Linked DNA regions of Homo sapiens. The protein of the gene in region 2 interacts with the protein of the main gene of each other region in a pairwise test. Each region holds a gene or a part of one and is shown on either strand. Other genes may lie near its edges.

Evidence for each region.
Region 1: the proteins of CIT (region 2) and RND3 interact in a two-hybrid assay, tested with the Homo sapiens proteins (one study listed by BioGRID).

The regions. Positions count from the first base shown.
Region 1 is NC_000002.12:150,467,667-150,470,942, forward strand, and holds the end of RND3 (rho-related GTP-binding protein RhoE precursor), read right to left. Parts: intron 2,573-3,276; coding exon 2,321-2,572; 3' UTR 529-2,320; downstream 1-528. UniProt on the Homo sapiens protein: Binds GTP but lacks intrinsic GTPase activity and is resistant to Rho-specific GTPase-activating proteins.
Region 2 is NC_000012.12:119,706,122-119,713,424, forward strand, and holds part of CIT (citron Rho-interacting kinase), read right to left. Parts: intron 7,174-7,303; coding exon 7,082-7,173; intron 6,575-7,081; coding exon 6,470-6,574; intron 6,227-6,469; coding exon 6,057-6,226; intron 4,973-6,056; coding exon of another isoform or gene 4,928-4,972; intron 4,500-4,927; coding exon 4,419-4,499; intron 4,266-4,418; coding exon 4,130-4,265; intron 2,198-4,129; coding exon 2,058-2,197; intron 1-2,057. UniProt on the Homo sapiens protein: Plays a role in cytokinesis. Required for KIF14 localization to the central spindle and midbody. Putative RHO/RAC effector that binds to the GTP-bound forms of RHO and RAC1. It probably binds p21 with a tighter specificity in vivo.

The DNA.
Region 1 (3,276 bases), on a different chromosome or scaffold from region 2:
CTCCCAGATCAGTGGGGTAACTTGTATTATGTTGTGCTGTGTTATTTATCCTTCCACGAATTGCTGCAAAAGCTGTGTTCTGGGTCATCCCCACAACTGCTGTGAACAAGGGCATGCCTTGCGAGGTGGCATGGGTTAAGGACCAAGGCTTAGGACCCCACAGGGCAGAGAGGCAAACTAGGCTTATATTAGTATTAAACCTGTGACTTGAGACTGCATCATATTGCTTCATTCTTAAAGACTTGAAGGATTTCCATCTTTTCTACAAGTTAATCTTAGGCAGTATCATAGCTCTTTTTTGTATATGATCAAATCACTTAATCTAATTATGCCCCATTTTTTTCTTGTGATTTGAAAGCATCATGAAAACTTTTATATATGCAGGTTTATCTGTTACTACTATGAAGAATCAAAAAATTCCAAAGCCTTCTAGTTCAGAAAACGTTAGGCCAGATTCTGTAATCACCTATGTTAAAGAACAAAGCTAAACAGCTAAATCAGGAAGTAGATAATAAAAGACAGATCACATTTAGACAAAGACATGGTTACTTTTTTATTTGAAGAAAAAAAAAGTATGTTTTAATAAATACTGCGGAAACATTGACCAAACAAACATACACAGTGACTTCAACAGTTTAAAAAATGCAACAAAAGTTCTGCTTTATAACAGTTATAACTTATTTTCTTTTTACAATATTTAAATACAGAAAGCACTCGCCAGCTATTTTGTAATACTGCCCAAAGCATAATGCTGCATCAATCAAAGCATATTATGTTGGTAAAATGTCTGTATTTTATGGGAAATGACTGGAATCGAATTTTCTTGCAGAGACAAGACAAAGTGCTTGTAAGACATAGAACTGAGTGTTGTAATTACCTTAATCTCTCCTGCCACGATTTAAGGGGAGCACAGCTTCAACACTTCAAAAACGAAGCACTATCATGGGAAAGAAAGCTCGTTTTCAACAAGCGCCAACAATAAACAGGTCAGATCTGGTTTCTTCTCTGAAAGAATCTCTAAAAGGAACTGGTCAAAAATATCTGTAAACTATTTTAAATGCTTATTATTTTACGTAACAACAGAGACCAAGTGCTGAACACAGACCTTGGCTGCATCTGTTCAGTGAGGTTTTAGCAATGACACTCTAGAAATGCCCTAGTGTTATGTCAGGACTGAAAGTTTATCATATAATCTTCCACTAGGGATTCTCTAAAGCTTGGGTAAGTGGCATCTTCTCTCATCAATGTTCATTTAATGAAAAGTGAAATAAACCAACAGATTATCAGATGCTGTCAGTTTTGGAGCTTCAACCCAAAATAATAGTCCTTTTGCTTTGTATTTTTGGTAACTTAATTCCAGACAGCTTTACTCACAAACTGTGCTTTCTGCTACTATTCTTTCCTTCACTCATTACCTTTTCTGGTGAAAACAGTAACTACCTTTTTTCTCTCCTTGGATCATTCTATGACATCAAACCAAGACACCTTTTATTTGACTTTGCATTTTTATCAACGATGGCAAAAAATCACACAACTTCTAAACAGCGCACAAAAATATTACATTGAGCAATTTACCACTTTTTAATGACAATCACAATGAAGAACAGAACCATCAGACTGAATAAAAATCGACATTTTTTTTCCTATTTGATCTATGCGATCTTTGTAGTGCTGGTCTACAAATCTTGCAAGATTGCAAAGGCTTTCCTTAGAACCATCCTACTCAGCTATCTTCAGGAAGGCAAGATTTCAAAGCCTCATAAAGTTTGCCTCTGGATATATCCCATGGGTCCTGATACAATTTCCTTTTTAATGATGAGCTAGAAAGAAATTAGATCACATCCTCTAGAAAACTAAATGCTAAGGTCACAGTGCCAGTTCCCCCTTGAGGACGGTATATTAACGTATACTTTTTGTAAAGGAGATTAAAACATTTAAAAATTAAATCAAAGTGGAGATCCATGAATAGATTATAACAAAAAAAAAAAACCCAAAAATGCAAGCACCATTCAGAGTGTGATTTTTCTTCTTGGAGGTACTCGCATCCCCCCTCATCTTCCTCTAGCTCATTTGTATCTCTCATTTTTTGGCATATTTTTCAAGTCACACTTAAAAACTCTTCCATGTATTCACTTCTCATCACTTGGTCTACATGCCGAACCTAAGGTCAGGATTCCAAAAAGATGAGTATCCTCTCAAACGCCTCCTAAGCCTCTGGTATACATGACTTTGGCTGTGCACTTCATTTAGACTTCACCTTTTTGTTTGCTGTTGTTTTTTACACTAGATTCCTTTGTCTTCATTAAAGATAATGAAAGATTCACATCACAGTGCAGCTCTTCGCTTTGTCCTTTCGTAAGTCCGTAGCAACTGCCGAGAGTTCTGGTCTGCTAGGCATGTGTGAAATCCGCTTTGTGGCTCTCTGTGATTTGTTCCGCTTAACGTTTTTATTTGTCTTATTTACACATGCCAAGGTGGCAACGTGAAAAATGTCTCTGACGCTATTTTCCGACTGTAAAGCTGAGCATTCGATATAAGTAGCTGCTCCAATCTGTTTGGCCATATTTGCCCCCTGAGAAGCAAAAGAAGGGATTTTAACCAGCAATAAGACTTTGGGGGAAAGTTAGCTAGCATCTTCTAATACCACAAAATAATAACACATTGCAAAACGTTTGCTGATATGTTAACTGAATTTTCCAAGTGTCATTGCAAAAAAAAAAAGTTGTTAAAATGTAAACTGCCTTATTTATTACTTCATAACTATTTGCAGTCCAGAGCCCATCCCTAAGATGCCCAACTCTCATGGCTCATTAGAGGTGTTAGAGCTCTGAATAAATGCTAAAGGCTGATCTTAACAAAGGAAGACCCTGGTTATCAAACACTTAACATGAGGTGATTCAAAGAAGTGTAGAGTGGAGCTAACGAAGTGATTCATCTTCACTATCAACTGCAAGCAAGAGTTAACTGGTTATTCAGGTTTTCCAGGGTCACAGCAAGCATGGAATGGCGCAGAGAAGCTTACTAGTGAAGTAAGTTAGCTGAAGGTCATGAACATAAACTCTGCATTTTCCACACAGCTCTGGCCGTGGCGATGTGGCCTTGAGAACCTGTTCCAGCGCCTCATGGTGCACTTCATTTCTCTTTTCTTGAGGGTAAATGGCATTCAAGACTAGTGACTAGGTTGTACCAAAAACAGGGGCAATGAATGAAATTTAAAATCGATTTTGAAATGTATGTGATTGTGTCTTACTTAGGGCCGAAATGCGTTGAGGAAAG
Region 2 (7,303 bases):
CTGAATGAACAAATGTGCAGTGTGCTCTCTTCTGAGGGTCAAAATGCGATGGTTTTCAACAGCAGAACGCCAGTAGCCTCAGGGGGTCTATAAACACCTGATTCAGACTTAATTAAAGTTATACATGTACATGTATATATACCCGCAAACACTCTTTTTTATTATTTTCTACTTTAACTTTTAAGTTCACAGGCACATGTGCAGGTTTGTTGTATCAATAAACTCATGTCATGGGGGTTTGTTGTACAGGTTATTTCATCACCTGCGTATTAAGCCTAGTATCCATTAGTTATTTTTCCCGATCCCCTCCCTCCTCCCACCCTCCACCCTCTGACGGGCCCCAGTGTGTGTGTTCCCCTCTATGTGTCCATGTGTTCTCATCATTCAGCTCCCACTTATAAGTGAAAACATGTGGTATTTGTTTTTCTGTTCCTGCATTAGTTTGCTTAGGATAATGGCCTACAGCTCCATCCATGTTCCTGCAAAGGACATGATCTCATTCTTTTTTAGAGCTGCATAATATTCCATGGTGTATATGTACCACATTTTCTTTATCCAGTCTACCATTGATGGGCATTTAGGTGGATTCCATGTCTTTGCTATTATGAGTAGGCTGCAATGAACATACACATGCATGTGACTTTATAATAGAATGATTTATATTCCTTTGGGTATATACCCAGTAATGGGATTGCTGGGTTGAATGGTATTTCCATTTTTAGGTCTTTGAGGATCCCCACACTGTCTTCCACAATGGTTGAACTAATTTATACTCCCACCAACAGTGTATAAGTGTTCCTTTTTCTCCACGACCTCACCAGCATCTGTTATTTTTTGACTTTTTGACTAAAGAAGCAAACAAAGGTATTTTATGTGCCACTTTTCAATATGCCAGAAGCTACAAATGAATTAACTTGAGTTCTCATGAACTTTGTTATGTAAATGTCATAAATTCGAATTTTTAAATTTCTAGTAATGAAACATACTTTCATCTAGTTCAGACATGGAGATCCACATTAGATTTTTTTTAAGGTTCATCTCTCTCTCACAGACACAGCAGACATACACACGCACATGCAAACACACTTATTTTTAAATTATGGATCATCCTTCTAGTTTTGTTAATTTTATTCCCATTTTGCTCTCAGACATTTATTTTAGATTCAAAACCTGTACAAATTTCATGGCTACACAAATTATTTCACGTGCCTAAAGGAGGCAACAGAAATTTAACCTAGTTTGAGGATGTACAATTGTGAAAGTTGTCAGAATCAAAATGGAGCTGCCAATGTTAACAAAACGCTGACATTAGAGCAGGAGGAGGCCATGAAGAGAGGATTCTCACACTTGTGTGCCTGATAAAAAAGAGACTCGACGAAAACCACAAAGGCCATTGCAATCTGTTTTTTTTTTCCCTGTCACCAGGCTGGAGTGCGGTGGCGCAATCTCGGCTCACTGCAACCTCCGCCTCCTGGGTTCAAGTCATTTTCCTCCCTCAGCCTCCCGAGTAGCTGGGATTACAGGCGCCCGCCACCGTGCCCAGCTAATTTTTGTATTTTTAGTAGAGACAGGGTTTCACCATGTTGGCCAGGATGGTCTTGATCTCTTGACCTCGTGATCCACCTGCCTCGGCCTCCCAAAGTGCTGGGATTACAGGCATGAGCCACCGCGCCCGGCCAGGCCATTGCAATCTTACACAAAAAATACTTCTGCAAGGACATCCGCCCAGTGACTATCTGTCCAACCTTAGACAAGCGTCAGTCTTGTTATTAATCTTTGAAGCCAAGGATAATTATTTCAAAAAGACTATGGAATCCTCACTTACAAACCTCTGTCTTCCTTTATCTCCCTAGATACCCACATAGTTTACAATGGCACGTGTATTCCCATTGCAAAGCCCTGTTCCCAAATCAATCTCTTTTCTTTCAAGAGAGCCCCTCTCTGTTTGTTATTTAAGTTGACACTATCTTGAAGGTCAAATCAACGAGCTCTGTGGGAAGAGAGGTAGTGTCAATTTCCAGAACATTCCACCAGCTAGGACTCTGAGGGGAGCTTACCTTGCCTGCCCCAAACAAGTGGCAGCCCTTGACAGCTTCAAAAATGTTGGGTGAGATGTCGGGCTGGGCAGGCAGGTGGGACTGGGCCAGGGACTGTTTCACTTTCTTCACGTCCACAAGACACAGTGCCCGCTCTTCTCCTGAACAGGAAAAGGAACAACCTCTCGTCAGTGTGAAGCCGTTAAGTAAAGGTACGGGATGGTGGTTCTAGTTCTAGTCACAAGTAAAAGTCACAAGAGGCCACACAGATGATCTGAGTTTTCCACAAATCCATATAAACACATTTTAGGTCCATGATTTATTTATTTTTTTTTTTTAAATTTTTGAGACAGAGTCTTGCTCTGTTGCCCACACTGGAGTGCAATGGTACAATCTCGGCTCACTAAAACCTCTGCCTCCTGGGTTCAAGCAATTCTCCTGCCTCAGCCTCCTGAGTAGCTGGGATTACAGGTGCATGCTACCACGCCTGGCTAATTTTTTTTTGTATTTTTAGTAGAGATGGGGTTTCGCCATGTTGGTCAGGCTGGTCTCAAACTCCTGACCTTGTGATCTGCCCGCCTCAGCCTCCCAAAGTGCTGAGATTACAGGCGTGAGCCACCACGCCCGGCCCAAGTCCATGATTTAAATCTAAGACAATAACATTTGGCCTTTTAGTCAAGATTCTGAGGAGGGTGGAATTCTGCAGACATAAAATTGGAGAATGTGAACTGTACTTTCAAACATGCTCCCCAGCAAAGTAAAGAACGAATGTGTGAGGGAGGAATGAGGAGGCATTCTATGAAAAAACAGACTTGGACTATCCAAATATGTGGATGTCAGGAGAGACAAAAGGCTGAGGAACCGTTCAGATTAAAGGAGACTAGAGAGACATGATTAAATGCAATGCAAATTCTGGGACATTATAGAAGCCACAGGTAAAATCCAATTATGGGCAGCATAGCGGATACTTGTATTATAGTAAGGGTAAATTTCCTAAATGCAGAAATTATAGTATGTGAAACTATTCTATATGATACTCTATGTGTGGATACATGTCATTATATGTTTTTCAAAACCCATAGAATGTATACCACCAAGAAAGAACTCTATAATGTAAACTGTAGACTTGGGGTGACAATGATGTGTCACTGTCAATGTGTCAATGTAGGTTCACTGACTCTAACGAACGTATCACTCTGGTGGGGGATGTTGGTAGTGGGGGAGGCTATGCATATATGAGAACGGGGGTATATGGGAACTCTCTGTACCTTTCAATTTTGCTGTGAATCTAAAACTGCTCTAAAGAATAAAATAAGGAAGAGAGGAAGAGACGGAGGAAAAAGAGCTGAGATTAAGAAAGGCCAGTTCTTGTCCATAGTATGTCAGTCCCCGGATCCAGCCATGCCTGAAACAAGACCTAACTGTTGTTGTTTTGAACACTGAATCGATATATTACTCTTTTCCCCTTTAAAAATAATGTCACTAACACAGACAGAGAGAAATAAACTGTACCCTGGTTATGTGACAGAATGTCTTCAATCCTTAGGTTGATATACTGAAGAACTTGGCGTCATACCTGCAACTAACTCTCAAATGGTTCAGGAAAGAGAGAGAGAGAGAGAGAGAGAGAGTGTGTGTGTGTGTGTGTGTGTGTGTGTGTGTGTGTGTGTGTGTGTGTGTTAAGAAGACAGAGAAAAAAATTATGACAAAATATTAGCAAATGGTGACTTGAGAGAGATCACAGAGTTAACAGAGCAAGCAAGCTCTCAGAAGGTCAGGGCCCACGGTGGTTTCGTTGCAATCAGGACAAAGGGTTTGGCTTTAGATAGTCTTCGAGGCTTAGCACTCTTCACTTGGCCTAACAGTGGGATGTTCTTTGGGAATGTCAGACTGTGCTAAACTGGATACTGGAAGGGAACTGAATCTGGACAGAGGGGGTCCATTAGCTGAGGCTTGGGCATCTATGGGGACACAGAGATAAGAGCTACAACGGCTCCTCTCTACTATTTTGTGTTTTACGAGCATGAAACGTGGCTTCAACATATTGGCTCCCTTGAAAGTAAAGAAAAAACACCATGTCCTTGGCCTCACACCTGCTATCATGAGTAGCTTCTCCAGGTCCTTGATAATATAAATTTGGAAGACTGCTCCAATTCCTGGGACATGGGTTAGGGAGTTTTTCAAGACATTCAGGGCGTAGAGCCCTTCCTCGGTGCCCACCAACACCACCTGCAAGGGCAGAAGTCCGAAGGCAGAACATAAGCACGGTCACGTCACCAGAACAATCTCTAGTAAGAGCAACAAGGCCTCCACAGCCCTTTCTTTCTTGATGGGGTGTGGCTGTAACCAGACACCAGCTGGCCGTGCCCATGCAAGCATTACCTGGTCACTGAAGGGCAGCGTGCAGTTCATGTCTAGACGGTCATCACCTTCCAGTTTCAGCAGGGAGTTTCCAAGCAGTTTCTTTTCATAGGTGAAAGAAAAGAAAAACAGAAGACATCGTGAGGCTGATCTGTTTATGACCAAACCATCCAGAGAAACCAAGAGAAGGTTAAGGCCAAGTTATTCCTGGAAATGCTCAGAAACGCACATATGCTCTTAGCTCAGCCCGTATTTTGATCTGAGCTCCAAATGCAAAATGCGAGTGCTATTGGTATCTCTGGGGCAGCTGTTAATTAGCATCTGAGTTATAATTTGGCTGGGATGCAGAAATAAGGGAGGGTAGTAGACATGGAAAGCTATTCTGTAATAAGAAATAAGCTGAAGCTAAGGAGATTTCACCTGCGCAGGGTTAATAAGACACATGAAAGACTCCTTCCCCCATAAGGCTGCAGCAGAAGTGCAAAGGCGCCGTGTTAGCAGCGAGCCAGCACGCCTCTGCATCTCTTTACCTGAACCCAGGCAGGCAGAAGCTCGTAAGAAACACAGTCGCGGGCCTATTGTACACATATTAACAAGGATTTCAGTAAAAGCTCACGTGTGAAACGACCAACAAGTCATCCAAACAGGTCTAACCACTGAGTAAAGCCCTTTTCAGGAGGCTTGTGGTTAAGAATCTGCCAATTGCTAACACATAAAGTGTTTATTAGGAGTGAAGAGTCTGAAAAGAGCTGTTTGGTCTTCGCTGGAGCAAACGTCAATGAGCAATGAGCACTGTTTGTATCCTGGAACATTTTAGGTGGGGTGATGCCAATCACAGCACACCTACGTTTCTAACAGCTTAAGGATAAGTAGGACTCCAAACCTGCCTACGGAAGAGCAAATACTGCAAAAACAACTGAGATGCTTATGAAAAGCCTTCCTGGAGGGGACACAGCTGCCGGCAGCCTATTGTGCTGCTTCGTGGCCAAAGTGCTTCTAACTCAAGCCTTCAAACCAGACAAACTCATTTGAGTAAACAGGAGAGAGGATTTCCTTATAAGTACATTTGCTGCTGCATCACCACAACCAAGGTCTACAATGCCACCAGAGTAGGCTACTGATGCCGATTCCCCCATTCTTTTTCCTTTGCTTTTACAGTCCATGCCTCGCTCTGTTGCCCAGGCTGGAGTACAGTGGCACAATCGTAGCTCACTGCAGCCTCAAACTCCTGGGCAATCCGCCGGCCTCAGCCTCCCTACTAGCTGGAACTACAGGTGCATGTCACCACACCTGGCTAACTTTCTTTCTTTCTCTTTTTTTAAGAGATGGGATCTTGCTATCTTGCCCAGTCTGGTTTCAAACTCCTGGGCTCAAGTGATCCTCCTGCCTTGGCCTCCTGGGTCACTGGGACCACAGGCATGAGCCACCGCATCCCTGATTCCCACATTCTAAATGGATCATGATGCCACACAAGCTACCTTGGTGCTTGTGCCTTCATCACCACCAGACTCCTGGCCATGACACAGTCTAGAGCCATCAGCCCTCAGAGAGAGAGCCTGAGGGGAATCAAAATGGCCAATGGGATTCTCGTCGTTAACACCAGTTACCAAGTCAGCCCCCTTTACAAAGACAACCTCCAGGGCCCGCTTTCATACTCACAGCATCAGCTTCTGCTTTTTCCCTAGAAACTCTCCCACCTGCGACAACTGATTCTAAGGCGGTGACCCAGCGCTGTTTGTCAGGGAAGCTGGGAGCTAGCAAGTAGAGGGTTCTCCCGGGCCAGCAGGTGGTGTGCGGGTGAGATTCCATCTTCAGTATGTATGGGACATCTAGGAGATTTCAGAGAGCACAGGATTGGGTGTGGATTTCCCCCGTTCCCACTGGGAGGGACGGGCCTGAGAGATCAAAGATGCCCACCAAACCACGCAAATCCCAGTTACCGCCAAGGCGGGGAGCGGAGGAAGATGGGCCTCCTTTGCAGAGCCAATCTTCCCTGTACCACCCCTTCTGTCCCTGCTGATTGGCCAAGCCCGGCCCACCTCCAGGGCGGGGCTCCTCCGGCTCCTCCTCACCTGCTTTGGCTGTATTTGCGAGTTCGGAAGCACCAACGGCACCATGAATAGATACATCCCCGTCGGGAAGGCACAGCTCAAATTCTTCCACCGGCCTCTGTCCAGCTTGGTGCAAAGAGGAAGGGCAGAAAGAAAAACAAAAGAACAGGAACAAGAACAAGGGGAGAAGAGAGAGCGAGAGAGACAGCAAGGGAGAGAGAGACAGGGTACGTGTGTAAAGAGAGGCGCACGAGAACAAGGAAGGGACAGAGGTGTGCAGAGAAGGCAGAGAGGGAAGATAAAAAAAAATAAAGTGTGTCAGATGAGTAGCACAGTCAAATTTCTGATGACGATGCGGATTTATGGGTTAGTTGACTGAGGCAGAAGTTCTCGGAAGGTGTATTAGCAGGTGGAATCTTCAGGGCAGCGCCCTGCGGGTTCTTCAGGGGGGAGACCTATAGATGTGAGTATCGCACCAATAACCTTTAGAGAAGTCATTTGGTTTGTAAGTTTCAAAAATGGAAAAGCGTAGAAGGCTTGCAAGGCAGTCCAAAAAACAAAGCCTTCGCGCCAGCACTGGGGAGACCTGGGTTAGCCACGTGCAATGACCTTCCCCCTGAATTATTAATTTACCTTCTCTGGCTTCATTGTCATAAATGAGGACTTTTGATCCCTCCAGGACAATGTACTTCCTGTCCCAGCCTTGCTGTCCTCGTTTGTTATTCCTGGGGAAAGAAAGATGGAAAAGAAAAATGTCTGAACTCAGAAGAAACATCCGGCTGGAGGATAGGATGAGGGGGTGGCAGAGTTCCTAGAAAAGACACTTCCCTAGAAAACATCAGGGACAGAGTGGCT